Regions from separate parts of the Homo sapiens genome. Here regions 1, 2, 3, 4 and 5 are each linked to region 6. Evidence: fine-mapped expression QTL. A gene starts in region 6. Each other region holds a variant in brackets. All regions are shown on one strand. Distances are between the middles of the regions. Region 1 overlaps FAM170B-AS1 (FAM170B antisense RNA 1). Region 2 overlaps VSTM4 (V-set and transmembrane domain containing 4). Region 3 has its middle 21 kb from the start of TMEM273. Region 4 holds the start of FAM170B (family with sequence similarity 170 member B). Region 5 has its middle 19 kb from the start of MIR4294. Region 6 holds the start of TMEM273 (transmembrane protein 273).

Evidence for each region.
Region 1: its variant is fine-mapped to the expression of TMEM273 in whole blood (TOPMed, PIP above 0.99).
Region 2: its variant is fine-mapped to the expression of TMEM273 in whole blood (TOPMed, PIP 0.91).
Region 3: its variant is fine-mapped to the expression of TMEM273 in whole blood (INTERVAL, PIP above 0.99).
Region 4: its variant is fine-mapped to the expression of TMEM273 in blood mononuclear cells (TOPMed, PIP above 0.99).
Region 5: its variant is fine-mapped to the expression of TMEM273 in whole blood (TOPMed, PIP 0.98).

The regions. Positions count from the first base shown.
Region 1 is chr10:49,144,203-49,149,278 of GRCh38, reverse strand. FAM170B-AS1 (FAM170B antisense RNA 1) reads right to left here. Exons shown (of 6, transcript NR_038973.1): 5 at 3,379-3,497. Among named protein-coding and RNA genes, the nearest start is that of FAM170B, 13 kb to the right of the region's middle. The variant A/G (reference allele first, on the strand shown) is at 2,503.
Region 2 is chr10:49,040,997-49,046,072 of GRCh38, reverse strand. The region is part of intron 7 of VSTM4 (V-set and transmembrane domain containing 4); the gene reads left to right. Among named protein-coding and RNA genes, the nearest start is that of MIR4294, 58 kb to the right of the region's middle. The variant C/A (reference allele first, on the strand shown) is at 2,777.
Region 3 is chr10:49,206,846-49,211,908 of GRCh38, reverse strand. No RefSeq gene overlaps it. Among named protein-coding and RNA genes, the nearest start is that of TMEM273, 21 kb to the right of the region's middle. The variant G/C (reference allele first, on the strand shown) is at 2,726.
Region 4 is chr10:49,133,677-49,138,752 of GRCh38, reverse strand. It overlaps FAM170B (family with sequence similarity 170 member B), which reads left to right and starts at 4,732. Exons shown (of 2, transcript NM_001164484.2): 1 at 4,732-4,946. The coding sequence starts at 4,835. It overlaps FAM170B-AS1 (FAM170B antisense RNA 1), which reads right to left. Exons shown (of 6, transcript NR_038973.1): 2 at 2,672-3,097. The variant G/C (reference allele first, on the strand shown) is at 2,515.
Region 5 is chr10:49,002,232-49,007,307 of GRCh38, reverse strand. No RefSeq gene overlaps it. Among named protein-coding and RNA genes, the nearest start is that of MIR4294, 19 kb to the right of the region's middle. The variant T/A (reference allele first, on the strand shown) is at 2,708.
Region 6 is chr10:49,186,266-49,191,341 of GRCh38, reverse strand. TMEM273 (transmembrane protein 273) reads left to right here and starts at 2,951. Exons shown (of 7, transcript NM_001288740.3): 1 at 2,951-3,048. The coding sequence starts at 3,006. RefSeq lists enhancers at 283-502, 963-1,122.

The sequences.
Region 1 (5,076 bases), 42 kb after region 6:
AGGACTTAGTGTGATGCTTAATTGTATGTATCAACTTGGCTGGGCCACAATGCCCAGATAGTTGGTAGAACATTATTTTGGATGTGTCTGTGAGGGTGTTTGTGAATGAGATTTACATTTAAGTTCGTGGACTTTGAGTCAAGCAGATTGCCCTCCGTAACTTGGGTGGGCCTCATCTAATTATTCAAAGGCACAGACAAAGCAAAGCCCGAGCAGGAGGGACTTCTGCAGCATGTGGCCTTCAGGCTGGAACTGCAACCTCAGCTCTTCCTGGGTCTCTAGCCTGCTGGCCCAGACTGCACGTTGTACTTGCCAGCTTCATAATTGTGTGAGCAAGTTCCTTAAAATAAACCACTTTATATTATATATACATATATATATATATATATATATATATATATATACACACACACATACATATACACGTGCACACACACACGCACACACATCTTGTTGGTTCTGTTTCTCTGGAGAACGCTAATATACTTGGTAAGCACAGCTGGCTTCCCATGAAAACCAAGACTAGGGGTTGTGCTCTAGGACTAGAGACAGAACTGAAATAGACCCAGTCAACACAGCCTAAAACCAGGATTCTCTAGAATCAAGGTAACTTACCAGTGATGTAACTTGCCAGACTAATGATTTGTGCCCAGGACTTAATTTTAAAGGTGACTGAAAGACAACACAGAGAGCTCATGTCATGGAAGGAATAATTTATTACAGTACTTACACTTCCTAAGAGAAGGGGACATACCATGTCCCAAGAGGCCACAGGGAGGAAGCACCAGGTTTGGTCAAAAGGTAGAAAGAGCCAGAGAAAAGCATGGCCCAGAGCCTTTATTGAGCTTTCCATGGGAAAAGCAAGGCAGGAAAGGGGAAGCAACTTAGTACTGGCTAGTGTGGATAGGGTTGGTGGGCTCTGGTCTCCAGTTGTCTGAATGACTGGCCCTGAGTGATTTAGGGCAGGAGAAATACTGGCTTGGTGTGTGAGAGTTAGGTAAAGAAGGTGGTTGGGGCACACACTCAGGATAGATGAGAAAGTTTGGGATAAATTTTTTTTTTTTTTGGAGATGGAGTCTCACTCTGTCACCCAGGCTGCACCCAAGGTTCAAGCGATTCTCGTGCAGGTGCGTGCCACCACTCCCAGCTACTTTTTGTATTTTTAGTAGAGATGGGGTTTTGCCATGTTGGCCAGGCAGGCCTAAAGTGATCCGCCTGCCTTGGCCTCCCAAAGTGCTGGGATTAGAGTTGTGAGCCACTGTGCCCAGCCAGGGATAAGATTTTTCAGGCACCTAGGGAAACTGGACTGCAGGGCAGATATATACAACAGTAGCTGTTAGTTTGGCCCTGTAATTAATGGATGCTTAGTAGACAAATACAGAATCTAAGAAAACATAGAACAACTAAGCATCAACACTCTTCAAAGGAAGATAACAGAATCCAGAGTTTCTATAATGCATCAACCACAATGTTTAAAGGAACAATACCAGGCAATCAAAAAAGCAGGAAAACATGACTCTTAACAAGAGAAAACAGACAATAGAAGTAAACCCATTATAATCCAGATGTTGAAATTAGCAGTTAAGGACTTAAACAATTATTGTAAATATATATATATTTTTTCAGGTGAAATGAACAGAAAGGTGAACAGAGGGGAATCCTTGGCAGGCAAATGGAAAGTATAAAAGAGTCACATGGAATTACTAGGCTTTAAAAATGCCATATCTAGCCTAGGTCTTTGCACTTGCTGTTTCTGCTACCTGGAAAGCTTTTTCTCCAGGTTCTTGAATGGCAGATCACTCTCTCCACTCAATGTTCTTCCCCCACATTATTCTGCAGGGAGGCCTCCCCTGAGAACACTCCTTTAGTTATATATTCACTTACCATGCTATATTTATCATGAGGACACTTATTGCCACTGGCATTATGTTATGTATTTATGCTTGCATCCATCTATTTTTTTTTCATCCTCCACAGTAATGCCAGCTTCTTTAGGACAAGGATTTTGTCTTTTTCACTGCCAGGGCAGTGCTGGGCAGAGAGCAGGTGCTTAGTAAACATTTGTTGCTATTCCTTTAAAAATATCCAAATAGTATAAGCAACTATAAAGAATATTTTTATAGAAATAATTTGAACATCCAGATAAAATGGGTTATTTTCTTCCCAAATTTAAATGACTATGTTTGCTCAAAAAGAAGTTGAGCCTGGGTGTAGTGGCTCACGCCTCTAATCCCAGCACTTTGGGAGGCCGAAGAGGGCAGATGACCTAAGGTCAGGAGTTTGAGACCAGCCTGGTCAACATGGTGAAACCCTGCCTCTGCTAAAAAGACAAAATTAGCCAGGCATGGTGGTGCGCACCTGTAATCCCAGCTACTTGGGAGACTGAGGCAGGAGAATCACTTGAACCCCAGAGGCAGAGGTTGCAGAAAGCTGAGATTGCACCACTGCACTCCAGCCTGGGCAACGAGAGCAAAACTCCATCTCAAAAAAAAAAAAAAAAGT[A/G]AAAGAAAAAAAGAGGTTGGGAAACTAGCTAGGATAATTACCATAGGGAGAAATGGAAAATAAAAGTTGTACTAGTTACTGCCTAAATCTTCCTCACTGAATCCCTATCAATTCCCTGTCCCTCTAACAGTCTAAAGCAATATCTTTTCCCACATGCTCACCCATGTTTTTTGCCTTTTAAACATTTTGCTATTTTTTTTCCTAATTGAAATCATTTCCAATGGTTTAGTCAGTCTTTTATTGCGTGCCTTTTCTAGTTTTTTTGTTACTGTAAAACACATGTAACAAAAATTCTTGTGTATATTCTTTTGCCATAGACACAAGAATTTTTCTAGGGGCAGATAGAATTTTTACTCCTAAAACTGCAGTTTGCATGTGGCATTTCCACTGTGGAAGAAGTCTGAGCATTAGTGTTACTGGGGAGGCTGGTCTCCAGGGTTTCTGGAGCACTGACATTGGAACAGAAGCATGTTCCTCTCTGGCCTCTTTGAGTTTACACCTCAGGTTTGGCTCCGATTATGCCAGGCTGCTCTTGGAGGCAGAGAGGTCAGAGCTGCTTCTGCTGCTTCTGTGGGTGAACCTGGTTGAGAGAGCCCCCAGATAGGAGAGCAACATGGACAGAATGAACTGTGAGACCAGAAAGGCAAACAGGGTAGCAAGGTGGTGAAAACAAGCTAAGATTAGAGATCAAAGTCAGCCCAATGTCTGAGTGAGGTGAAGGTGGGGACGCTGTGACCACAGCAGTAGGCACAGGCATATGTTAGGCTCAGGGTTCCGTGGGTGTTGAGAAGGTCAGCAGGGGAGGGCCAGGGTGCATTCATTGCTCTTCTCTTTCTTGGGAGTAGCTCGCTTAGAGATGAATTTTATCCCCACTACCTGGGTGAACAGATATGGAACCAGCCTTCAATCAGGATACAAATCTCCAGGAGCAACAGCAGGCACTGAATCCAGAAACTCTTAGCTCATCATGGTGGCCGTGGATCTACAGCTCAGCCCTGAGGAATGAGCAAAGCTGTAGACAAACACATGCAGGGTTTTATGCCCCTGAACCCTAGTGCGCTCCTCCTAAGAAAAAGCCCAAGGCCACTGACACCACTTCCTAGAGAAGGAGTTGGGCAGAAGAGCTGGTTGGCAGAAAGGGGATCTGCCTTCAAAAAGAGTTTCCACAAGTTTCAAGGGAGTGAAGCTTTGTAGAAAGAAAATAATGTCCAAAGAGGGATTGTTTGGGGAAGTTTTGCCACTTAAAACCCTCAATGTCTCTTCAAGGAAAGATAGATTCCAGCCAGGAAGGGCATGAAATGGTCTTAGGCAAGCTAAATGCATCTTCTCTCAGTGACTTTCTAAATGGGCATGGTAATGACTCACCCAACATTAGGGAAGAGATGGTAAAAAGGGGAGAAAGAAAAGAACAAAATCAGAGGACGGTGACAGGAGGTGACTTTGACACCTGGAACCTGCAGGCGGGGGCAGGTCACATTCTCAGACATCACGTGGGGGCTGGAAGGGAGCCCCTCTTCCACTGCCGCATTCTGAGTGGGGAGCCTGTGCTGTCATCTGAAAGCCATGAGGGAGAACATTGCAAGGTCATATTTGGGCCCAGGCCAGTTGAGAAAACTTGTGGATGTACTGCAACTTCTAAGCTTCAGCGATTGTCCGCAGAACCAGTGAGGTATTCTGCTGCCCAAAAGGAAACATCTCCTCAATTAATGATAATTTATAATATGTGCTTAGCATTTGCCTGGCACAGTTTGAAATAACCACTGTAGAGCTGTGTTCACTTTTGCAGGATGGAGACATGGTAATACCAAGTCTGGGCTCACACTGGTTCTTTATGGGGCTCTGCCACTTAGAGGAATTGATGGATGGTGGTGGCTGGAAGAGCTGTTGGCTGGGGCAGGTGTCCTGAGCTGGGGAGGGCAGAGGGAGGCACTGGGAGGGCTCAGGTGGGAATGGATGAGGATCCGGCTTGCTGGGATGGAAAAAGCCTGCACTCTGTAGATAGACATGGGCGTTTGGCTCCGACGCCTGCTACACAACTCGGCAGCTCTGTGACCTTTAAGCAAATTCACCTGGAAAATGGGGAAGAGGGGCTCAAAAATCATCTGCTCTGGGACTACCATACTTGATGACATAATGAAATTACCACCCCATTTAGAAAGTCACTGAAAGGGAACGGTTTAGCCTGCCTGTGGCAAGTCATGTCCATCCTGGCTGGAATCCATGTATTCTTGAAGGCAAATGTGCTCTGCACCTGGTTGGTGGTGTAGGTAAATGCTGACTGTTTTCTGTTCTACAACCATGGGGCTAAGAAGACAGTTCTGGGTGGGCCATCCTTCCCAGCAGCTGGAGCAGCTAATTCAGGTCTCAAGTGTCTGAAGCCTCAGTCATACCCAACTTCCCCCAAAAAGGTTGGAATTCTTGGCCACACTCCCTGGCGCAGTCCCCACAGCTGGAGAGGCTGCCCTGGCCTCCCCCACAGACCCTCTCCACCCAAGCCTGCCCCTAGGGTATCTCTTCCTGCAGCCAGGCCTGGAGCTTGCTTGCCCAGCTGGCTTTGATCAGGCTCACTCTGAG
Region 2 (5,076 bases), 150 kb after region 6:
CACATCTTACATGGAGGCAGGCGAGAGAGGGTGTGTGTGAGCACAGGAAAAACTACCATTTATAAAACCATCAGATTTCATGAGAACTCACTCGCTTGTCATGAGAACAGCGGGGAGGAAACCACCCCCTAACCCAATCACTTCCCTCCCTTGACACCTGGGGTTTACAATTTGAGATAACATTTGGGTGGAGACACAGAGCCAAACCATATCATGGGGTTACGGATTTGGGGGACAAAGAGCACAGAGGTGGAACTCCCTTCTCATTGCATGGTATCGGGGCACATGACGACAATATATCTTGTTAATGGTGATGCTCATCTCAATCACGTGGTTAAGGTGGTGTCTGCCAGGTTTCTTTACTTTGAAGTTACTATTTTCTCCTTTCCAGACTCTATTTGTTAGAGGCCAGTCCCTGAGTCCAATTCACATTCAAGGTGAGGAGAGTTGAGCTCCACCTCCAGAAGGGAGGCATGTCATGAATTTGTGGATATGTTAAACCCACCACAGTAATTAATAAAAATCTTAGGGGAGATATGTTAAGGCTTGCAAATATCTTGTTTTTCCTTGAACTTTTGCCCACTAATCTTGCATTCATCAGTAGATTTTGCTTGCAGCAGATTTTACTATGGTGCACTAAGGGTGATTTTCTATTTCCCTTAATCTTTCTAGATGTATTATTTGGAATTCTTCTATAAGGAAAATGGCCCCCTTTTTTCATTTGTTTATTGTTCACTAATTCCTTGATATCAGTATGGATCCGTGGATATTTATTTTTTAGTTTTTAACTACATAATTATTTATTTTGTTGTTAATATTATTCAGCAGTTAGTTGTGTGTGTGTGCATGAGAGAGAGAGAGAGAGAGAGAAAGAAAGACTGTCAAAGCTATTCTAAGGTGTGTATGCCAAGACAATCTTGAGGGCGGAGTGCAAGGTGGAGGATTTATATGCCAATTCTCGACATCTACATTAAAGCAAGTGTAAGTAATACAATGGGGTATTAATACAAGGGCAGACAAGTAGACAAAGGAACAGAATAAAGAGCCCCAAACATAACTGCATAGGATTGTCATTTGATTTATGACAACAGTGACATTGCAGTGCAGTGAAAAAGAGATTATCTTTTCAATGTTTGGTGACGGGTTTTTTGGATATCCATATGAAAAAAAGATCTATAGCCCCTTCTCTACACCACACACAAAAGTTAACAGGAGATGGATCATAGACATAAGTATGAATGGTACAAAGTAAAGCTTCCCGAAGGTAGCATTTCTTCCTAATTTCAGAGTAGACAAAGATGTTTTTAAACGAGACACATAAAGCACCAACATGAAGGAATGGATAAAGAAATCTGGGTTGTATTAACATTTAGAACTTCTATTCTGTTTAAAGATACAGTTAAAATAATGAAAAGGCAAGCTGCAGACTGGCAGGACATATCTCTATGCATATATCTGCCAAAGGTTTCCCTCCCTCTCTCCCTCCTTTTTCTTTTCTTTAATTTTTCCTTCCTTCCTTCCTTTCTTCCTTTCTTTCTTTCTTTTTCTTTCTTTCTTTTTCTCCTTCCTTCCTTCTTTTCTTTAATTTTTTCTCTTCTTTCTTTCTTTTTCTTTCTTTCTTTCTCTCCTTCCTTCCTTCTTTTCTTTTTCTTTCTTTCTCTCTTTCTTTTTCTTTCTCTCTCTCTCCTTCCTTCCTTCTTTTCTTGTCATTAATTTTCTTTTCTTTTCTTTCTTCTTTCTTTTCTGAGGCAGAGTCTTGTTCTGTCACCCAAGCTGGAATGCAGTGGTACTACCTCGGCTCACTGCAGCCTCCACCTCCCTGGTTCAAGTTATTCTTGTGCCTCAGCCTCTCAAGTAGCGGGTATTACAGGTGCATGCCACTATGCTAGGTTAGTTTTTGTATTTTTAGTAGAGTTGGGGTTTCACCATGCTGTCCAGGTTGGTTTCGAGCTCATGGCCTCAAGTGTTCCTTCCACCTCGGCGTCCAAAAGTGTTGGGATTACAGGCATGAGCCACTGCACCTGGCTGACCTGACAAAGGTTTCTTATCTAGAACATATGAACACCTGCCAATCAATAAGAAGTAAAAAGACAGCACTACCAAAAAATGGACAGAAGGTTTAAATGTGCACTTGACAAAAGAAGATATACAAATAGCCAGTAAACTCATAAAAAGTCCTTAACCTAATAGGCATCATGGCAGTGCAATTTAAAAGCATAAAGCCAGTTCACCTCCACCAGGATAGTTAAAATGAAGTACTTGTGCAGTTTCTTTTTTGCCTGTATTTCTCTGATCCATTTGGAGTTTAGAAATGGATCCAATTTTATCTGTTTGTCAGACTCTTTTTTATTTTACCTTATGCCTTCTATTTCAACAATCATTATTTGCTAATTTCATCACCATATTCTAAACAATTATTTGAACTTAATTTTTGTTTTGTTATTTATTCCTTTTTTTTGAGTCCAGTGTCTTTCCCTTCATTACCTTTACTTGCCTTTCCATTTGAGCAATTTGTCTGTGAATGGAATTCTAGATTCATAAACTTTTTCCACTAGGTGCAGAGAAATAGGATAAGCACTTCATAATGCATTTCTCTGAACTTCCTGTATTGCTGAACATAAATGCCAACCTCATGACTGTCACCTATAATTCCCCATATTATTTGAGCCACATAGGTAATTTAAACTTTCTAGTAGCCACATTTAAGGTTTGAAAAGTAACAGATGAAACCGATTTTAATGTATAGTTTATTTAACTTAACTATCAAAAATATTAT[C/A]ATTTAATCATGTAATCAATATAGCAATTATTAATTAAATATTTTCTATTATTTTTATTGTGGTAAGTCTTCAGAATCCAGTGTCTATTTGATGCTTACTGCACATCTTAATTCACAGCCACAGTTCCAGTGCTTAGTAAACACATTTGACTAGTGGCTACCACATTGGACAGTGCATCCCAGAATGATCTAGCCCCCATTGCTTCTTTGACATGATTTTTATGACCATCCCTCTCTCTCATTTCCCTTCAGCCACACTGGCCTCCTTGCTAATCCTTAAATATACCAAGCATGTTCCTGTGTCAGGGCCCATGTACCCACTCTCCCCTCTTCCTGGAATGTCCTCCCCAGAATCTGTCCATGGCTTATTACTCACCCCCTGTGGTCTCTGATCAAACATCATGTAATAAAGGAGCTGTCCTGATAGCCTATATAAAACACCACCCACCCTGACATATTTTGTGTTTATATCTATTAATCATCCATCTCTTCTACCAGGCTACAAGATCCATAAAGGCAGGGAGCTTGTCTGCTGTGATTCCTGCTGTATTCTTCATGTTTAGAAATGTGTTTAGCGCAATGGATATTTGTTTATGATTCTGCACACCCTCCCTGTTGAGTAGGTTCTGTAATTCTACATCCATAATTGGGTACATGAGCCTCTGAGAGTCAGTAAAGTGAGAGATGGGTGATGTACCCAAGGTCACACAGCTTGTGGGTTGCAGTCAGGGCTTAATCCAAAATCTAAGGTTTTCACCAGCACATTGGAAGCTTTGCCTCAGTGCGGAGTCTGGGCCTAGCTGCTCTCTATATGTGATCCTGAATGCCTGTGTGGCTCAGCCTTGCTCCTGTCCTTGCTGCTCTGTGCTTCACCTGTTTTTTAAAGAGTCTTCTTTTGCCTGCAGTGAACTGTGGGTTCTAGCAGGCTTTTCATATAGTGGGTTCCATTTGGTTCATGTTATCAAAAAATCCTCATCAATTCTACTCTGTTGACTATACCATATGGTTCTTAAAGGCAGCAGCAGGCCTTTTGGCTTATTTTAATAGGCCATTGGCAGTCAGTGGGCTTTTGGAAACTGTGGAGCATAAAGGCTAAAACAATCAATTTCCCTTGGCCTTGGAGCATCCCATTTCTCACCTGTTACATTCAGTCTCCTGCAGATAGACAGGCTGAGTTCACTGTCCTCTAGACTGTGTGCAGCACTGCACATCTGGGTGTGCGTGTTTATGTGGCTCTTTTAGATCTTTTCTTTCTAATTCTGATATTTAACAACTACCTTAAGAGTGACTACAGAGTGACTACACTTAATTTCCCCACCTTATGTTCTCTCTAAGTTACTCAGGACATATTGTTTCTAATCCAGTCTCTTACCCCTTCTAATAACAGAAACAACTATATATTGAAGTTTTATTGATATGTCCCAGGGATAGATCAAAAAAGTGCTTTTGGCATGTCATCGTATTTAATTCTCACAATAAGATTTTCTCATTGCCCCCTACAAGCTTTGCATGTGAGAACAAACAACACTATTTAAGAAACATGATCCATATCCCTCAGGTGTAATGTCATCAGTCTTCAGGAAACAACTTCCCCTAGTGCATAGCCTGGGTGGACCCACCTCTCATTTATCCATTAAACATGAAAATCTTTTGTGCACCTCTTGGGTGCAAAATGCTATCTTAAGCATTTTTTTGCAACTAAAAAAATATCAGATTCAATAGAGTTTTCAAATATAGCTGTGGTCCTGACTACAAGTTTTTTGTTGTTGACTTGTTTGTGTGTCTGAGCTGATGTGCTTCTCTGGGTGGGGACTCATCATAGGAAATTCTCAATTTTCACAGATAATTGATTGGGGCAGCTATATGCATTTCAGAAGGATTCTTTATTTTATGGAAGTATTCTCAATAATAGTTCTTTAAATAACAGGTTTTCCCTTGATCATTTAAAATACAAAGAAATTGGAAGCTTTTATACCAAATTTTCCAGAAGCAAGGTCAATTTGGAAGCTAGTTTACACCTATAACAATTCACAATAAAGACAAGAGCTGACCTCAGTAGGGCCTCTATCAGACCATTAGTTTAGAGACAAAAATATCAGGCCTAGCATCTGCAGTTTTTGGTGAATATCAAGATTTATTTTCCCGGGAGGCCAGCATTGACCTCAGTCTCAGTTTGGTCGATATTTATCTCTTAGATCAATAGGTCTTGATGGTAGCTCAAACAAAAGTCAATAGCCACCTGTTGACTCACACAAAGTTAGTGGATAATTTAGAAAATAATTTGGAGACATCTTATTTTG
Region 3 (5,063 bases), 21 kb before region 6:
TTCCAGCTGGGGCTGTTTGATTTAATTTCAGTGCCTTCTTTCCATGACCTCGGCAAGTATTTGATCAATTGAAGAGGTGAAACAAAGATTGGTTTCCGTTCTCAAATTGTTGGTTTGCGTCTCTGGGAATTAGATATTTGCTAACTCTGGTGAAAAGAGACTAGAGAGCAAAGATCTGGTAAGCGAGTCTCTGTCTGTAACAGCATATCAAATTGAACTTGTGTTTTTCTTTAAGTGTGTACTGTTTCAAGAGAGAAAATGAACAGAGGTGGGGTGAGAACCATGCATGGGAAGGAGAGAAGGATGAGAGAGCAGTACCTTGCCACACGGCGCATCCTGAGAGACAGACAGGATGGGCGGGTGACAAACCTGAGAACTATTTCACATTGGTTCTTTCAGATACATCACAGACTAGTTTTCAAGCGTGGCCTCTACAGAAATGAAATTCAGGGGAATAAGCTGGTCATAAGGAAATCATAGGATCACTGTAACTTTAAACTCCTGAGCTTGAATGATCCTCCCACCTCAACCTCTGGAGTATCTGGGTTTACAGGTCTGTGCCACCATGCCCAGCCAATTATTAAGATTTTTTAGAGACAGGGTCTCTTTATGTTGCCTAGGCTGGTTCCAAACTCCTGGTCTCAAGCAGTATTCCCACCTTGGTCTCCCATAGCGCTGGGGTTATAGGTGTGAGCCACCATGCCTGGTCTGATACTCCTTTAACCTCATTGGCTTTCACCCATGACTGCTCACCTACTTTTCTAGACTTGGCTCTAAGTGAACTTTTACTCTTTTCTCAAATCAAATTCACTTTTGAAAGGAAAAAATTGGCCTCCTCGGAAGAGAAGCAGAAGTCACCCTGACATGGGGCTGACAAGGCATGGGGCTAAGAGAAGAGCAACCAGAGCCAGGCCGCCATTGATGGTGTGATACGGGCAGGTCCTTTCCTAACCCCAGGCCTCACCTGCTCCAGGCCAGTGGACCTGGTCACACTCTAGTTCTTCTCTGACCTACTAGCATGTGCATTCTCCCTTGAGGGGTTTTCATGAAAATCATTTTCTTGGGGAGTCAGCAGGCCCATGGGCGATGGAACACAGAGAAGGCACTCATGGTTTTGAGACACCACAGAAACCAGTTGCAAGGGGAAATGCTTTTGAAGGTGAAGGATGGAACATGTTTGAACTATCAAAAGATTTTTTCCCCAACCCAACTCAACGTTAGAGGCCAGGATAGATGTTACCTCCATCCTGAAAGCAGTGGAATTCCCATATTGTCTCTTGTCCTAGATCCACACCCAGAATCCCTTGTTACTCTGAGTAGCACTCAGGGAAATCAATCCCACAGAAGGCTGGTTCCTAACTGCTGATACAGACAGACTCTTCACTTTTGGATCCACTCTTTGTATGCAGTGGTTCTTCAAAACATCAGAGCTAAAGGGATTTTTAGACAGCCCGGATAAATCAATATGGTGGGTACTATGGTGACTCCTTTTATGAACAGGCTTTGAAATGCTAAAGATCTTTCTAGTGCGGTCCCAAGTAACCCTGAACCACTCTGAGGAACACAGCTTATACACTCTTTAGTCTAAATTCTATCATGGGCTTTTGGCCAAAAGCAATAAGATCTGACCCTAGCTGCAAGCCCTTTGTACACGGAGCTATATAATAGATTTCTTTTTTCTTTTGTGTAATTTTGTATATGCTGAAAAAAAATGATCAGATAAAATTATTCAATGCAGTGGCTTCTATTAAGTCCATCTTGGAACTGTTATCAATTTTCTTCCTAATGGGAAAATAGATTTTCAGAAAAGGTGAATCAGGTTGTTCCCAACATCTGCTTATTTGCTCATCTGTACGTTTTTAGTGGCTACCATTATAAATGATGTTTCTGGCCAGGCATGGTGGCTCACCCCTGTAATCCCAGCACTTTGGGAGGCCAAGGCGGGTAGATCACCTGAGGCCAGGAGTTCGAGACCGGCCTGGCCAACATGGTGAAACACCCTCTCTACTAAAAATACAAAAATTAGCCAGGAGTGGTGGCAGGCACCTATAGCTTCAGCTACTTGGGAGGCTGAGGCAGGAGAATCGCTTGAACTTGGGAGGCAGAGGTTACAGTGAGCTGAGATTGCGCCATTGCATTCCAGCCTGGGTGACAAGAGTGAAACGCCATATAAAATAAAATAAAATAAAATAAAATAAAATAAAATAAAATAAAATAAAATAAAATAAATAATGCTTCTGGAGAGCAGCAAAGACAATGTGAGTGTGGGGTCCCAAGGAGAAGGGCTTCCTTGCCCAGGCTGAAGAATGAAGAATTCCCTGTTTGTTCCTGTGAAAGCCTTGGGAAGGAGGCAGAGGCCTGAGGGCCAAGTTTTCCTGGAATGTCCACTCGTGGACTTCCACTCCGGCAGCTCTAGCAGGAAGAGCCCTGGCTTCATCATGGCTCTTTTTGGGGGTCCATAATCCTGGATTCCACACCTTACCTGGCTTTGCAGCTGCATGGGCCAGGACATAGTGGAGTGGCGGAATGTGTCCTGCCCACTGTGTGCCTGCTGTGCTGTCACTGGGGGCAAGGATGGGAGAGATGGAGGGAACAAAGGAAGAGCCAGTGAGGGGGCTCTGCTCCCATGCAGCCTGAGAGCCAGCTGTAAGCCCCATGTGCTGCTTGACTACAGGGCCCAGGAGTGGGGTTGGGGGAAAGCAAGGCCAGGTGAGGATGCAGAGTA[G/C]CTGAGACCAGCATTCTGCTGTCTGTGTCTGGAGAGAAGGCTGTTAGTGCCCAGGCTGTAGCCAACCCTGGTGCAGGGGGTCCATGAAACCCCTTTTTCACTTGATGAGGGGTGTAGGGGTATAGGAGATGAGAGCTAGGCCGGACAGCTCCAAGAAGGCCACCACAGATCTAGAACCATTCCACTTGAGAAGCCGAGAGCAGGGACAGCTGGATTTGGGGCCAGGAGGACTCAGAAGGACGGAACTACAGATGAGGTCTGCTTCCGATGCACCCAGGAAGTCAGGGAGGACTGAGGCTGGGAGAGTTAGGGTGAGGTGTTCCTGTGTGTGCCAAACACTGTACTAGATCCAATAGCAAACACTCCGCCTGTGGCACACATGGGCCGTGCCACCTTGCAGGTGCCCGCTCATTCAGTGCCAGGCACATCTTACTGTTCTCATTAATCTGATCCTACAGATGAAGAAACTGAGGCCCAAGGAAGTTATGTGACAGGCCCAAGGTGACACTGTGTATAAATGGGAACACAGAGTCTGGGACCCAGGCAGGCTGGCTTCTGGGTGGAGGTCCTAACCATGCACTAAGAGCCCTACTAAAGTCCTAACCATGCACCAAGAGGCCACCACGAGCCCTGCTCCTAGGCACAGCTGGTAAGGGATACAGCCAGGACCCAAAGCCATTATTCTCTGCTCCAAAGCCCAGGACCCCTCTAGAATCTCAGCCCCAGTAGCTTAGGACAGAGCTAAGCATCCTCTGTTTTTTCCACAGCTGCTCCTCCACTAAGCAAACACTGCTCGCTCTCTCCTGCCTGTCTATTTTTGATCCTGGGCTCTGCTTCCTCCCTTAGCATCCCTCCCACCCCCAACTTTAATTAGAGCTCATGATCCACTCAAGAGCTCGTTCTGTGCATCAGCTCCCCCGGCACGAGCTGCTCATGTCTCTAGGCTTCTTGCAGCGAAGATGACCGAGAATAGGCCCCACAGCTTAGAGCACAGGTGATCTGCCAGACAAATCTCTGGGGAGAGCAAAGGATAAAGCCACGCCTGTACCACAAAGGCCATGCTAGAGGATAATGTTTGACCCTTGAGAAAGCCCTTCCCAACTGCTCAGAAGCAGGCAAAGCTCAGAGCAGGATGTGACAGGACTAAATTCCAGTGGAAATGACAGAGGATGTAGATACGTGGAAGATAATTGTCCCGATTGGGACCTAAGGCAGAAGTTTGGCACAAATGGAGCTTGCATAAAATAAAATGAAATAAAATCTCGAAAGCAAGGGACAAATACACGGAGCTTAGTGCAGCTCCATGACTTACATACAGCTGCTGCACATTTCCACCGAGGTTGGATTTAGGTTTCCGTGGGCAGAAGTCACTGCAGGGCTGAACGCAGGGATGGTTCTCCTGGAAAAGCCCCACCTGGGGCCATCTGACCCGTCAGATGGCACGTCCTGCCAGGGGCAGGCATTGAGTAGTGACTGAGCTGGACCAGGGCTGAGGGCTCTTTTAGAAGTGGGATCACTGCTGTGACGTTAATAAAAGTTTGAAAAATACAGAAAATTGAGAGGAGGAGACATTGATCCTCTCCTAGGCATACAGCCCAGATACAGCTATTATTGTCATTTTATTATATTTCATTGCAGCCTTTTTCTTCGCCATGTATTTTTGTGAGCTTGCTGTGTAAACAAATTTTGTACACTGTCTTCCCCCCAAATGGGCTTCTCCATGTTATTACTTTGTAAAAATTACCTTATTAGTTGCTCTATATCCTGTCAAGTGAGTTGGAATGCTCCTCTTTGAACATCTGAGTCATTTCTGACTTTTCACTATTGTAAGGACGTTTGTACATAGGGTTATTTTCCATATTTGAGGTTACGTTTTTATAAAATACCTACAGAAATATAGTTCACATATCAAAGAGCACAGTTATTTTTAAAACTCTTGTTAAAAATTACCAACTGGCCCTCTCAGTGTGACAGTCTGTGGGCCTCCCTAAGATTCCACCTTGCAGCGTAGGCTTTGGCTTCTCTGCTATTTTCTGATTCATTCAATCATTCATTTATTTAACAGTTATTGAGTCTCTGCTGTATACCAGGCACTGCTGTGTGTGCAGCAGAAACAAAAATGAATCGGACACATCCCTGCTCCTTGGAGAACTCTCGGTCCAGAGGAGAAGATGGATGACAACACAACATGACGTGTGGGGTGGGGGGAGTTGTGTGCCATGTATGGTGTCTTTCTGGACAGCCCTTGTGGAGACGCCTGTGGCTAGGCTCCCCCTGGGGCCAGGATCCCATTCCCTAATTCCAGTGTTCCCAGGAGCACCTCCCACGCTTCTCCTTT
Region 4 (5,076 bases), 53 kb after region 6:
AAGTGAAGAGAGACATGGCCTCTCTGCTTCCTGCTGTGGCTGTGGCCACTTTATTTCCTGTTAGCCTCCTCAGCTGGGAAAAACAGAGGCTGGGAAGAGTAGGTTTTGGAAGAAAAGTTAAGAGTAGAAAATATTCCAGGCCTCTTGGATGAGGTTTAGGGCTCGCATGCAATGTGTGCAATGAGCTGGCCAGGCGTCAGAGCTCCAAGAAAGTGCTGCGTTGGTCCTTTTGGGGGTTTGCACACCAGCCCTGCTGGCTGCAGCAGTGAGGCGCAGAGGTTCCTGGCAGGGCTGGAAAACCCACTGGAGAGTGGCAGGGGGATGGGTGGGAGCCCTTTGTGGGTGGTCTCAGCTGAACATCTGCATGGAGCAAGCAGAGCGGCTGGGGCAGAGGCTCTTCCCATAGACGGAAACAGCCAGAGGCCATGTGAGTGAGGAGGACAATCGCTCACCATCTGAGGGGCTTCACTCCAAACTAGCCCCAGGGAAGTAGCCCATAGGAAACATCAGAGCAACCTGGCCATGCAGCCCTGCCCCCAGGCGTGAGATGGAAGCCACTTCTCTCCCAGCTTTCCCACCCAAGGTTCATCAAACCCCTCTGAAGTGCCAAGCTCCCTATCTCTAAGGAGGGTTCACAGTGTATAATTTTTGAGAGGATTAGGAAGAACGTATATAGATTCTGGGTAAAGAAAGACCCGACTCAAGGGACTTTGGAAAACATCGTTTGGATCCCAAATTGTAAAGCTTTTGCCTTTACAAAAGCAACCGTATATAAACATTGCAATCTAGTAAGTTGTTTCCTATGGGGTAAGAATGGGAACCATCCTCCCAAGTTGTCCTGGGAAAACCACAGGGCTCACCTGGCCCCCAGGTTTCCCTGACTGGGCCAGGAAGAAGCACAGAGCACAGATGCTGGTTAACGAACTAGCTCACTAGAACATATTTAAATATTACAAGGGAAAATCAAAGTCCATTGAATTACCATGCCCTGTAACAAATTGCCCCAGAAACTAGTGTGTAAAACACCTTTTCTTATGCTCACAGTTTTCTTATGCTCACGGTGGGTGGGGAATTCCAGGAGGGCTTGTCTCTGCCTTGTGATGTCTTGGACCCCAGCTGAAAGACTTGAAGTCTGGGAAGCAAAATTATCTGAAGGTTCCTTCACTCACACATATGGTGGTTGATTGAGACCTTTGCTGGGGCTGCTGCCTGGAACACATCTATGTGGCCTCTCCATGTGGCCTAGGCTTCCTCACAACATAGTGGCTGAGTCCAAAGGAGAAGGGAGACAGAACCAGGAGGAAGTCACATCTTTTATGATCTGGCACTGACAGTCACAAAACATCACTCCTGTGCATTCTGTTGATTGAGGCAGTTACAAAATCCACCCCAGTTCAGGAAGAAGGACGCTGTCGTGTTATCAGAAGAGCATGTGGGTTGTGATATAGATTGGTTTGGCCATCTTTGGAAAATTTGGTCTCACACAGCCCCACCTAATCTTTTTCCTCTTTCTTGAGGTCAACACTGTTTTCTCTTGGGTGTGATTATTTTCAGATCTCCTCTGTGCCTTTTGATACATAGACAATATAGAATTTGGTCAGTGCTTTTGAGGGAGTATGTTTGATTTTTACATAGGTGGGGTCATCTATCTATTCCTTGTATCTTGTGTTTTCATTTAACATGAATTCACTTATCAGTATGTATAGATCTCTTTCTTTTTATCGTGGTGTAGTATTCCACAGTTTGATTATGTTGTAGTTTCTTTATTTTGATGGATCTTAGGAAAGTCTCCTGTCTTTATTTCTATTATACACAATGCTGCAATAAATATTTCTCTAGGTGCTATTTTATGCACATATCATGTAATGTGGCTGTTCCCTAGGAAAGAGATGATAGTAAACTGCTTAGGAAGTGCCTGCCCACTTTTAATTCTAATGGGTACCACCAAACTTTTTGAGAAAGTTAAGGTACACTGTTCCAACAGAGAATAAAAGTGTTCATTTCCTTACGTCCTCACCAGCACTGGGTATTGTCCATCTTTTTAACTCTTACCTATCTCATGGGTGAAAAGTGCTATACTGTATACTACACATTTTTAAGTTGTAGCTCCCTTATTACAGTAGGACTCAACATCTTCTCATATATTTATCATCCCTCTGCATTTCTTCCCCTGGAAACTGCTTGCTCATTTGCTTTTTTTTCCAGTTCCACTGAAAAGCAGAGGAATGCAAATTGAAACAGTGAGTTTTTTAAAGCAGTGAAATTAGAAAAGATGACAAAGTTTCTCAATGCTTGCGAAGACTAATATTGTTTAAGTTGAGAAAAAGCACCTTGTAATTACAAATGTTAACATATTTTCTTTCTACACATTTTTCATTAAAGCGTAAGCTCTGAACCATTATGAAAATATTCTTAATTGTTTTACATGAAGTGAGACCAAAGTTGATTCAAAAAAATAGCGAATATAATTTTTCAGCATAATTTGTTGGCTGAGTCTCCTTTCCTCCCAGACTT[G/C]CTGTTTACTTTGCCGCTTAACAATTCTCCATGATGTCATCTCTCTCTGAACTGCCTTCCATCCCCCAATGACCTACTTATTTTCTGTGCTGGCTGCCCCCTCTTGTTTTTGTAAGGCAAGTCTTTGTATTTATTTGTTAAAAAAGGGTGCACTTACACTATTTCCTCTTTTAGCCAGGGGACGTAGTCTTCTGTTTAGGTCAGGCGTGACTTTCATGGCTCAGTAGAGCACCGTGGTGTCTTCCTCCACACAGTGGCCTCACATTCTAGAGAGGAGGGTATTCCTCGGTGCTGGGTGTGTGGGGGATGTTGATGTTGCTTGTGGAATATTGGGATTATTTTCAATCCATCACCTATCTGAACTGTTTAGTATTTGGGATTCAAAGGAATAGAGTTGATGAGACTGACCAAGGGTGGGAAGAGATTAGCCACAGAGGGAAGTGGTAAGAAGCTTGTTGGAGGAAATGAGTGAAGTGCCAGCGTGTTGCAGAGCAGAGAGATGGCAGGTGAACATTTTATCAGGCTGATTGAGGCTGAAGCGTGGTTTGTGCAAATGGAGAAGGAAGAGGCAACTCCCAGAGTCCTAGTGGGAGAGAACCAACCACCCTGGAACTGCAGAGATCCAGGGAGCACAGAGGAGGCAGCTCCCAGAGGGAGTAACGCCTTTTTCAGCCCAACGTGTTCATCAGCTATTTACTCATTATTTCCTGAGTGCTTGTTAATATGTAAAACATTGATCTAGACACTAGAGATATAATGAGGTGGATGGAACGAAGGAAGTCCCTACCTGCCTAAGCTTACATCTAAGGAGGAGAAGACAGATACAGGTAAACCCATGAGATACACACACAGACATTATATACAGCCTAGGGTGGTAAATGCTATCATGGAAAAATAAAGCAGGGTAAGGTGACAGAGAGTTGTAGGGCCAAAGAAAGCTCTTTTCCTGGGGGTGCCAGGCAGGCTCCTCTGACCAGGTGATGTTTCAGAGGAGACCGGAAGGAGAGAGAGCCACACAGGAACCTAGGGGAAAGCCTGGAACAGGCACAAGGAAGAGCAAGTGCGAGAGCCCAGAGCCCGTGAGGGGAGGATGCCGGGCATGTCCGGGAGCAGTGAAGTGTCTGGAGTCACAGGAACTGAGCAAGGGAGTGAGTAGAGGAGAGGGGAGGGGAGGGGTGGGGTGGGGTTGTGGAGGGTTGAGGAGCTAAACAGGGTCAGCGTGGGGACGTAAGATGGGGGAGAGAAGGAGAGATTTTCCACACTGGGAAGCAGGGTCATTTTATGTTGGCTGCTGACTGTATGTATGTGAGCCTATGTATGGTTAATTAATCTGGCATGAATTTGTGTGCATGTATGTGTGTGTGGTTAAGTAAATATGTGTGTGAATTTGTATGTGTGAGCATGTTATGTGTCTATGTGAACACACGTACATATGTTTATGTTACTGTGTGTGCCATATGTGTTCCAGCGTATATGTGTGTCTGAGTGATCATGTATGCGTTTCTTTGTGTGTGAGTGACATAGTATGGACATGTGTCCCCTTCAAATCTCATGTTGAAATTTGATATCCAATGTGAGAGGTGGGCGTAGAGGGAGGTGTTTGGGTGACGGGGACAAATCCCTCATGAAGGGCTCAGTGCCACCCTCGTGGTAAAGAGTTCTCACTCTTAGTTCTGTGAGAACTGAGTGTTGAAAAGAGCCTGTCACTTCCTCCACTCTTTCTTCCTTCCTCTCTTACCCATGTGATCTAAACACACCTGCTCCCCTTCCCCATTTGCTGAGAATGGAAGCTTCCTAAGGCCCTCACCAGAAGCAGATGCTGGCACTATGCTTTGTGTACAGGCTGCAGAAACATGAGCCCAATACACTTCTTTCTTTTATAAATTACCCAACCTCAGGTATCCCTTTGTAAGCCACACAGATGGACTAAGACAGCGGTTCCATGCATGCTTAAGTGTATACAAGTGTCTCTGTGTTTATGTGTTTGTGTTTTTATGTGTGTCTAAGGAGTTAAGAGTATGTGTGTTTTGTGTTTCTGTGTGTCCATGATAATACACAAGACAGAAAAGGAGTTCCCATGGGGAAATGAGAACATGTTGGGAAGCCTCTCCTGGTATCCAGCCTCAGCCTCTGCCCTCGCCATGGGTCACAGAACAGACCAGTGCCATCGATGAGGTCACACAGTAGAGCTAGGATCTTAGCGACCATGGGGAGCTCAGTGTCCACTCTGGCTGGGGCCAGCTGGAGGCCTTCAGTACAGCCCCAGCCAACTCTCACTGAACAGCTGGAGCACCGACACCCTGGGCACTCATTTCAAATCATGAAATGCTACTTCACAGATCACAGGGGAGAACAGTCACCCACCGATGGGACCACCCTCAGCTTGACCAGCCCTGAGTCCACTGAGGAGAGTGTGGAAGTGTTCTGGCCAGGTAGGTGAAAAGAAAGGCCTGGAAGGTCAGCCAGCTGTGCTCCCTGGGAAGGAAGCCCTGATGGGAAGGGACAGTGCCAGGTTGCCTCCTGATACTGTTACCAAATGGTTGTGTTGACCATAAACATAGA
Region 5 (5,076 bases), 180 kb after region 6:
TCTGTGATGTTCAGACAGGCTCTGTGTTTTCTTCTGAGTAACTGTGTGACTCTGCAGCTCACACACTGACATCTCGAAACAGAGAGAAGTGGAGCTTTTAAACATGCACAAGGCCAAGTCAGACCCATGCAGAACAGATGACCTTGCATCCACCCTCTGAGCGCTCCAGTACACTGCATGTGCCCCTGCCGGGTTGCCCCCACTAGGATACATGTTTCCCTGTTTTTATTTTTTGTTTGTTTGATTGTGGTAAAACTTACATAACATTTACCATTTTAACTGTTTTCAAGTGTACAGTTCAGTGGCATTAAATGCATCACATTGCTGTTCAACCACCTCTGCCATCCATCCCAGAATTTCTCCATCATCCCAAACTGAAACTGTCCCCATTAATAACTCCTCATCCCCCTCTACTCACCAGCTTCTAGGAACCACCACTCTGCTTTCTGTTTCTTTTTTTTAAAAAAATATTTTATTTTAAGTTCTGGGATACATGTGCAGGATGTGCAGGTTCGTTATACAGGTAAACATGTGCCATGGTGCTTTGCTGCACCTGTCAACCCATCACCTAGGTATTAGGCCCCGCATGCATTAGCTATTTATCCTGATGCTCTCCCTCCCGTGCCCCACTGACAGGCCTCGTTGTGTGTTCTCTTCCCTGTGTCCATGTGTTCTCATTGTTCAACTCCCACTTATGAGTGAGAACATGTGGTGTTTGGTTTTCTGTTCCTGTGTTAGTTTGCTGAGGATAATGGCTTCCAGCTTCATCCATATCCCTGCAAAAGACATGGTCTCATTCCTTTTTATGGCTGCATAGTATTCCATGGCGTATATGTGCCACATTTTCTTTATCTAGTTTATCATTGATGGGCATTTGGGTTGATTCCATGTCTTTGCTATTGTGAATAGTGCTGCAATGAACATACACGTGTATGTATCTTTACAATAGAATGGTTTTATTTCTATACATTTGCCTATTCTAAGTGCCTCATTGTAGCGAAATCAATATGGGGTTTATCTTTTTGTGCCTGGCTTATTATTTCAGTTAGAATAATGTCCTCCAGGTTCATCCATGTTGTAGCATGCATCAGAATTTCCTTCCTGTATAAGGCTGAATAATATTCCATTGGATGTACAACCACATTTTGCGCATCCATTTATTTGTGGATGGACATTTGGGTTGTTTCTGCTTTTGGCTGTTGTGAATAGTGAGGTTATGAACATGGGTGTGTAAGGACCTGTTTGAGTCCCTGCTTTCAAAGGGTGCATGTTTCCTAAGAGTCATTTCATCATAAACAGCACATGGCCTCTCATAGACCCAGTGCCCTATAAATGCAAGGGGACTTCAAAAAGTTTATGAGAAAATTGAATTTTTATATATATATATATATATATATATATATATATATATATATATACACACTTTATTTTTCAACATAAACTCCATCAACATCAAGACACTTTTGTAAATGGTGATACCAGCCATTTAATCAGCCTAAAGAACTGAAGATCCCAAGAGCTTAACCATGTCAGTGCAGTCTTTTACCTTATTAAATGAAGAAAAATGGATGCTCTTTACATATGTTTTAAGATTAGGAAAGAAAAAGAAGTCAGAAGGAGCCCAATCGTGGCTGTAAGGTGGATGCCTAATGATTTCCATCAAAGCTGTCAGAAAATTGCTCTTGTTTGATGAGAGGAATGAGCAGGAGCCCTGCCATGGTGGCAAAGGACTCTCTGGGAAGCTTTCCCGGGTGTTTTTCTGCCAAAGTTTTGTCTAACTTTCTCAACACTCTCATAATCAGCAGATGTTATTGTTCTTTGGCCCTCTAGAAAGTCAACAAGCAAAATGCCTTGAGCAACCCGCAGAACAGTTGCCATGACCTTTCCTCTTGACCCGTCCACTGTTGCTGTGACTGGTCCACTTCCACCTCTTGGTAGGTGTTGTTTTGATCATGCTTTGTCTTCAGGATCATACTGGTAAGGTCATGTTTCATATCCTGTTACGATTCTTCAAAGAAATGCTTCAGGATCTTGATCGCACTTGTTTAAAATGTTCATTGAAAACTCTGTTCTTGTCTGCTGATCACAATGGTTTTGACACCATGGAGTGGAGTGTGCTCAATTTTAATTTTTCTCAGAGTTGTATTAGCTGAGCCAGTGGAGATGTCTATGATGTTGGCTCTTGTTTCTGCTGTTAATCATTGGTCCTCTTCAACGAGGGCCCAAACGAGATGAATTTTTTTCCTCACAAACTGACGTGGATGGTCTCCTGCTGCAGGCTTCATCCTCAACATCGTTTCATCCCTTCTCAACACGAGTTATTCATTTGTTAACTGCTGATTTCCTTGGGACACTGTCCTCATAAACTTTTGTTAAAGCATTGATAATATCACCATTCTTTTACCCAAACCTCACAATAAATTTGATGTTTGTTCTTACTTCAATTTTAGCAAAATTCATGTTGTTCTCAAAGGGATTTTTTTTTCTTTTTTTTTAAAGACTGAATTATCTTTCTATTTGAGGTTGTATAATAAAATTGTTGTCACACAAAGGAGCAATCAAAGAACATACAGAAAAACATCATTTTTTATGGCTGCATAGTATTCCATGGTGTATATGTGCCACATTTTCTTAATCCAGTCTATCATTGTTGGACATTTGGGTTGGTTCCAAGTCTTTGCTATTGTGAATAGTGCCGCAATAAACA[T/A]ACGTGTGCATGTGTCTTTATGGCAGCATGATTTATAGTCCTTTGGGTATATAGCCAGTAATGGGATGGCTGGGTCAAATGGTATTTCTAGTTCTAGATCCCTGAGGAATCGCCACACTGACTTCCACAATGGTTCAACTAGTTTACAGTCCCACCAACAGTGTAAAAGTGTTCCTATTCCTCCACATCCTCTCCAGCACCTGTTGTTTCCTGACTTTTTAATGATTGCCATTCTAACTGGTGTGAGATGATATCTCATTGTGGTTTTGATTTGCATTTCTCTGATGGCCAGTGATGGTGAGCATTTTTTCATGTGTTTTTTGGCTGCATAAATGTCTTCTTTTGAGAAGTGTCTGTTCATGTCATTTGCCCACTTTTTGATGGGGTTGTTTGTTTTTTTCTTGTAAATTTGTTTGAGTTCATTGTAGATTCTGGATATTAGCCCTTTGTCAGATGAGTCGGTTGCAAAAATTTTCTCCCATTTTGTAGGTTGCCTGTTCACTCTGATGGTAGTTTCTTTTGCTGTGCAGAAGCTCTTTAGTTTAATTAGATCCCATTTGTCAATTTTGGCTTTTGTTGCCATTGCTTTTGGTGTTTTAGCCATGAAGTCCTTGCCCATGCCTAAGTCCTGAATGGTAATGCCTAGATTTTCTTCTAGGGTTTTTATGGTTTTAGGTCTAACATTTAAGTCTTTAATCCATCTTGAATTAATTTTTGTATAAGGTATAAGGAAGGGATCCAGTTTCAGCTTTCTGCATATGGCTAACCAGTTTTCCCAGCACCATTTATTAAATAGGGAATCGTTTTCCCATTGCTTGTTTTTCTCAGGTTTGTCAAAGATCAGATAGTTGTAGATATGTGGCATTATTTCTGAGGGCTCTGTTCTGTTCCATTGATCTATATCTCTGTTTTGGTACCAGTACCATGCTGTTTTGGTTACTGTAGCCTTGTAGTATAGTTTGAAGTCAGGTAGCGTGATGCCTCCAGCTTTGTTCTTTTGGCTTAGGATTGACTTGGCAATGCAGGCTCTTTTTTGGTGCTATATGAACTTAAAAGTAGCTTTTTCCAATTCTGTGAAGAAAGTCATTGGTAGCTTGATGGGGATGTCATTGAATCTATAAATCACCTTGGGCAGTGTGGCCATTTTCATGATATTGATTCTTCCTACCCATGAGCATGGAATGTTCTTCCATTTGTTTGTATCCTCTTTTATTTCATTGAGCAGTGGTTTTCAAACTGATGTCTGATCCTTCTTAGTGTCTCAAACTAGATGCTGTTCAAAAATGTTATAATGAGTTATTATGACTTTATTATGATGCAAAAAATTTGAAATGCATCATAGTTTTTTCATCATAAGCATTTTCTACGAGCTTTGTGAAAACCCCTCATGTGCCCGGGCTGCTGTCATTGCCATTCCTCGCCTTTCAGGAGCACGAAGTCCCACACTGTGGCAATGAAGATGTCTTTGGAAGTCAATGTTCTCTTTGAGGGACATTTAGAAATTGTGATATATTCAATTAATGATAACCAAGGATAAAATTTAGTTACTAAATTAGTCACTAAATTAGGTATCTAATTTGTAATTAAGACCATTCTATTTATCTAACTCAATGATAAGGTGGGATTGAAGTGGCTTGAATGAGAAAAGCTGCAATATTTGGTTTTTATAGTAGAACATCCTAGTAGGTGTTTGAGGTTTGTACCTGATTTGGATCCTTGAAGCAATGCTATGTGAGCCCTGAGCGGGGAAGGGCTCAGGGGTCTGGTGAAAGTGACCAGCACATGTCAGGCCCCTGTCTGGGCCTGCTCCGTGCTCAGGGCATGGCTTTCAGTGCAGATCTCCCTTCCTGGGCCTGCTGGCTGCACCCTCTGCTGCTTCACTGCATGTGGCCAACCTGGGGCCTCAGTTTCCTCACCCACAATGCTCTGACAATGATGGCATCCTTGAAGACTTTTCTGAGGATGAGGCAGAACTGCACAGTAAGCCCCTGCGCAGGGACCAGTCCACAGCCGGTGTGGGCTGGGCAGTGGTGGCTCTCCCTAGGCAGCCGGGATTCTGGGTGTCGGAGGCTTTCCTCTGCTTCCCTGTGCTCCCTGGGTCTTAATGGCTGCCTGGGGCCTCTGGCGGGGGCTGCCGGGTGGGAGCCTCCCCAGCAGATCTCTGCTCAAGCGATGCTAATTGTGCCTGAGAGAACGGCTCACTAGAGTGGAAAATAGTCCTCATATATCTAGCTGAAGACGATAATGACCTTTTAAATAACAGAAGCAATTTTATTTCAATACCTCAATTACTCTGAACTCTCAAATGTCAAAGTGCTCGGCACTTTCAAAATAGCTTAATATAGACATTTATAGCACTTAGACACAGC
Region 6 (5,076 bases):
ATTTTTGTTACTGTCGTTTAATTCAATTACCTTGTGGTAAGAAAATATGGTCTATATGTCACCTTTTCTTTGAAATTTTTGAGACTTGTATTATGGCCCAGTGTGAGACCGTTTTGGGGTATAAATGTTGCATGCATGCTGAATTGAATGGCTATTTTCTAATTGTTGGGTGCACAGTTCTATGTAAGGCCAATAAACAAATCTGCGTGCTGAATCCTCCCTATCTTTAAATTTGTAAAAATCTGATGCGTAATGATGGTGTTTGGCAGTTTTTTGTGACTTGCACTAAAGGCGTTCACATGAGACATGAATTCTACGAGCTCCCTGGCTGGTCCTGAGGGTGCAGTGCTAAGGACAGAAGAGTCCCAGGCTTGGTGGCCTTGGAAGAGGCCCCACATCCGAGTGAGGGGCAGGATGTCAGAGCTGCCGGAGTGGGGCTCATTCTTTTCTGCTTGTCAGTGCAGTGACCTTCCTCACCTAGATGACCTGGAAAATATTCCTGCCAGGTGGGCTGGAGGCTAGGCCGGCTGAGCATGAGATAAGAAAGTGAAACGACTTCTTTTTTTTTTTTTTTTTTGAGACAGAGTTTCACTCTTGTCGCCCAGGCTGGAGTGCAGTGGCGCAATCTCGGCTCACTGCAACCTCTGCCTCCCGGGTTCAGGCGATTCTCCTGCCTCAGCCTCCCAAATAGATGGGGTGAATTGAATTCTTCATTCAACAAACACCGCTAGGAGCCTGCACTGTGTCAGGTGCTAGGCCAGGTGCCCTGGGCCCTGCCCTCACAAGCTCCTGGGCCAGTGTGAGCCAGTGCCAGGAGCAGCCTCACGGTCAGAACTGGGCGTTCATTACAGGGGTACAGGGTGGGGCATCCGCTCTTCTGGGTGCATTGTGCCACGCCAACAAGACACACACCATCTTGCCAAGGTGCCGTGGCTGGGTGCCAGGGCATCTCGTGAGATTCTAGTTTACGGGGCGTTTTGAGCCTCTGCCTGTCTAAGCAGGGAGCAGACTGCATTTTCCAGACTCGGAGGCTACGGCAGAGTGAAAGCAGAAGTAGCTGCAGATGCTTCCCCTCCTGGGAGTATGTAGGACAGGTCGAGCTCCCAAGGATGTTTGGAGAGGTGTTTGGGAGCAGAAGTTCATGCTGGTGTTTAGGTTGACTCATCCCATGCGAAAGTATTTTGAAATCAGTTGCCGACATTTGAAACTTATTGATTTCATATAAAAACAGAACTGCCTGGTGTGGCTGGAAGCCCTGGGCCTGGCCTGAATGTAGCTCCACCGTCCCCAGCCACTGTCTACAGATTGTCAGGTCTGCACTGGCATTTTCTTTCAATACACTTAGAGGAAAGTGAAATATTTTTCTTACACATGTTCCCATGAACTGGGGCAAAATTAAGAAAACTCCACATATTCCAGGAGAAATAAGAGAGTATGTTTCTTGGTGCAGGTAGAAACTGATCTTAATTTCATCAAATGAATAAAGTGTGGACAGATGGAACTTGAAGGCACCCAGATGAAGCCAATTGCTTCTCTCATGACCAGCCTTCTCCTCTCATGTCCATTATTTATGTGAAACTCAGAAGGAGCCACAGCAGCCATGCAGAAGAACCCAGGGGGCATCTGTGGCACCAGGGCAATCGGACTGCCTCTGGCTGGACCTTGGCAGGGGATGGTACCTGTACACAGAGGGCACATGCAGCCTGAGGGGCATAGGCTGCCAGCCAAAGGCCTGGGTTTCGAGTCCAGCTCTCACATTTACTGCTGCGTGGACTTGGACAGGTTGCATGCTAAGATGGCATTGGGCTCAGTAGCAAGTGCTCACGGTGTTGGCTGCTACCGTTAGGGATTTGACTGAGGGAGCCCAAGAATGAAAAGAGCTCGATTTCTGCCAGCTCAGTTGGGTGGGGGACTCAAGACTTGTCATTAAGTTGATTTATATTTTAAAAAGTGACATTTCCTGCACATTTGGGTTTTTGGCTGAACATCTAAGCATTGTGACAACGTGCAGGTATAAAGGAGTACAGGAGCATAAGGCCTTCAGCCTGCTGGCTGAGCCTGTGTGACTACCAAAGTTCCTCCAGGCTAAGGACCTGGACATGGGGCCTGTAAACTTGGATGGGAAAAAAATTACATCTCTGTTCTCTAACCTCTAAGGAACACTTAGCATCTTCTTCTAATAGTAGTGTGGCAAACGAACCACAGAAACATTACCACCCAGTAACTTTATTTCTGGTAGGAATCACAGGTCTTTCCATCCACATTCCAGCTGTTACAGGTATCTCTCAATATCGATTCCATTTATCACCATGTCGAGATGGTGGTAGCTGTTTCATCTGCTGCCAGATCTTGCTATTTACTGTGTGGATAAATAAGCATGTATATTTCTACTTCACAAGTTTAACAAAATATTTTGATAACTGTGTGTTAATACTACTGATTTCTACTATGATCCTTATCTATTTTAGTTTGGGGATTTAAAAATCTTATTCTGAGAAGAGAGTGATAGGCATTCCTAGACTCAGAGGCTCCCATGGCACAAAAACAGTGACCGAGCTGGACTATTGGCTGGAGGGGCATTTCCTATTTCTGCTCCAAGGCAGAGGCTACTGCAAGGGCTGGACTGCAGGGCAGACCGGCTTTGCCCACATTCCTCTCTGAGACTTACTAGCATGGGTCATTAGGCAAGAAACCGCACCTTACCGAGCTTTGTTCCCACACTCTGTGGGGAAGATTATAGGAGAGAACACTGGGTATAATACCCCAGCATGTACAATGGGTCTAATCACAGCCAGCTTCTGGTGGAGTCCAGAATGACAGGGGCTTCCTTCAGCCCTGTCTTCAGAGAGGCTGAGAGGAACTGAACAGCCTCCTGGCTGTGACAGTGGTTTCCTTCCCCATCAGTCACGTGGGTCTTGTCCTGTCCCCAGAGCCTTGGGTCACATGGCTCATTGTGCCTGCGCTGCCAGCAGCCAGGAGCCAGGAGCCAAGAGCAGAGCGCCAGCATGAACTTGGGGGTCAGCATGCTGAGGATCCTCTTCCTCCTGGGTAAGTGGGGACTGCGGGGGTCTCTGGCCCGGGGGAGCCTCAGTGGGCAGGAAACTGGGGGAGCCTTAGCCCACTGGGGCTTGATCCCTAAAACATAACTCTGTCCCTTTACACAGATGATGTTTCTCACTTTGATCTGGTAGTGAGCAATGATCTTGTTTGTCTCATTCCAGCTGCAACTTACAAATGCTTCTGGGCTAAAGGAGAATAGGAAGGGTCATGGCAGAAGGAGCTTCGGGCTTGGGATCTAGAAACATCTGGGTGTAAACTGTGGCTCCATTGCTGATAAACTAGAATAAGCTTCTGAAACTCCCTAACTTTCTGAACCAATGAGATGGGAGATAATCATGTTTACTTTTTGGGATTTCAAGAGAGTTAAGTTAAATTTAATTAAGTCAAATCAAAATACTGACATAGAATGAGAACATGTAGGCATGTAGATACTGGTATACATTTAATGTTGAATCAGAATTCTCATGCAGTGAAGCAGACTCTTTGCTACTCAGAGGTATCTTTGTTTTTAAAAATTATCTTTAATGCATTCCTTGAAAGAAGGAAGAAAGGAGAGAGGCAAAGACTAAAACAAAGTAGGGCCAAATGGAGGAGAGAAATATAAAGTCAGAGAAGTAGACAGAGAGGAAGAAACTCAAAGAGAGAGAGAGAGAGACAGACAGAGACATAGAGAGATGGTTAGAAATATGCATAGATGGAGACAGAGATGGAGAGAGACACATGCCTTTACGAAGTCCCCTCTGATATCAACTGTTGTTTCCTAAAAAGGCAGCATACGTCCCTCATATATACAAAGACGTTCCTTCCCAGAACTTGCACTGGGCCGAGACTCAATGGGAAGCAGTCTGTCTCCAGATTAAATCTTGTGTCTCCAGACCAATAGGTTGTATCCTGAATGCGGGCAAAGTTAGTGCTGTGGGCAGGTTTCCATCTAAAGTCTGCACTAAGCAGGGGAGAGCAAAGACTTTGGCCTTGGGAGTCAGCATGTCAGACAGACAGCCAGCCACATCATCCATCAGTTTACACATGGAAACGGGCCGTTGGCAGTGACTGTGAAGGGATGTCAGGCACCAGCAAGCAGCGATTAAGGGTGTGCACGGTGGTTAGATGCAGTGTGCCTGCCCAGAGACGTGGTGGAAGGTAAGAGAAGTTGTAACCCTTATTTCTGCTTTTGACTTACCTAGATAAACAAACTAGTCTGTCCTGGTACAAAAAAAGGAAGTTAAATTTAAGAAATCCAATGAAAAATGTGCAAATTATATAAACAGGCAATTCATTGAAGAATCACAGACAATAAAACTTTAAAATGTCCAGTCTCACAAATAATAAAAGATCTAACACCTCCTCGCATTTTTTAGTGTGTCGATGTGCTGGGTGCTCTGCTGAAGATGTTACATGAGCTCATTTGGTTCCCACAGCAACTCTGTGCAATAGGTGCCACAATTACCTGCATGTTATAGATAAGGTTTTAATCACTGGGCCAAGGCATCACAGCTCGTTTCTGCTTTCATATACTATTGATAGAGGTACACAGTGGTTAGGAGTGGGTATCCAGTACGAGACTCCTTAAATGTTCATCCCTGTTCTGTTGTTTACCAGCCTGGAAAACTTGGACAAAGAATTAATCCTCTCTGTGCCCAGTTTTCTCATCTGTAAGTTGGGGACACCTCACAGGACTATTGGGAAAATGAAATCTGTTACCACATTTAAAGCACTTAGCATGGGATGTGATAAGTGGTGAGCACTCACTATTGGATATGAGGGGACTCATTTATTCACTCTCTCCAGAGGGCAATTTGGCAAAATCTGGGTGTCAATGTAAGCGAAATGTAAGATGTTCATAACCCTTCACCCAGAAATTCCACCTCCAGGAATATAACCTGATGAAATAATATGGTAAAACCCTCCCAAAATATTTCACAGGGTATTATTCAACACTGCCGAAACCACGGTGGGAACCAGAAACAAGAGACTATCAGTAGGAATTTGACTAAGTTAATTATGCTTTAGTATTTC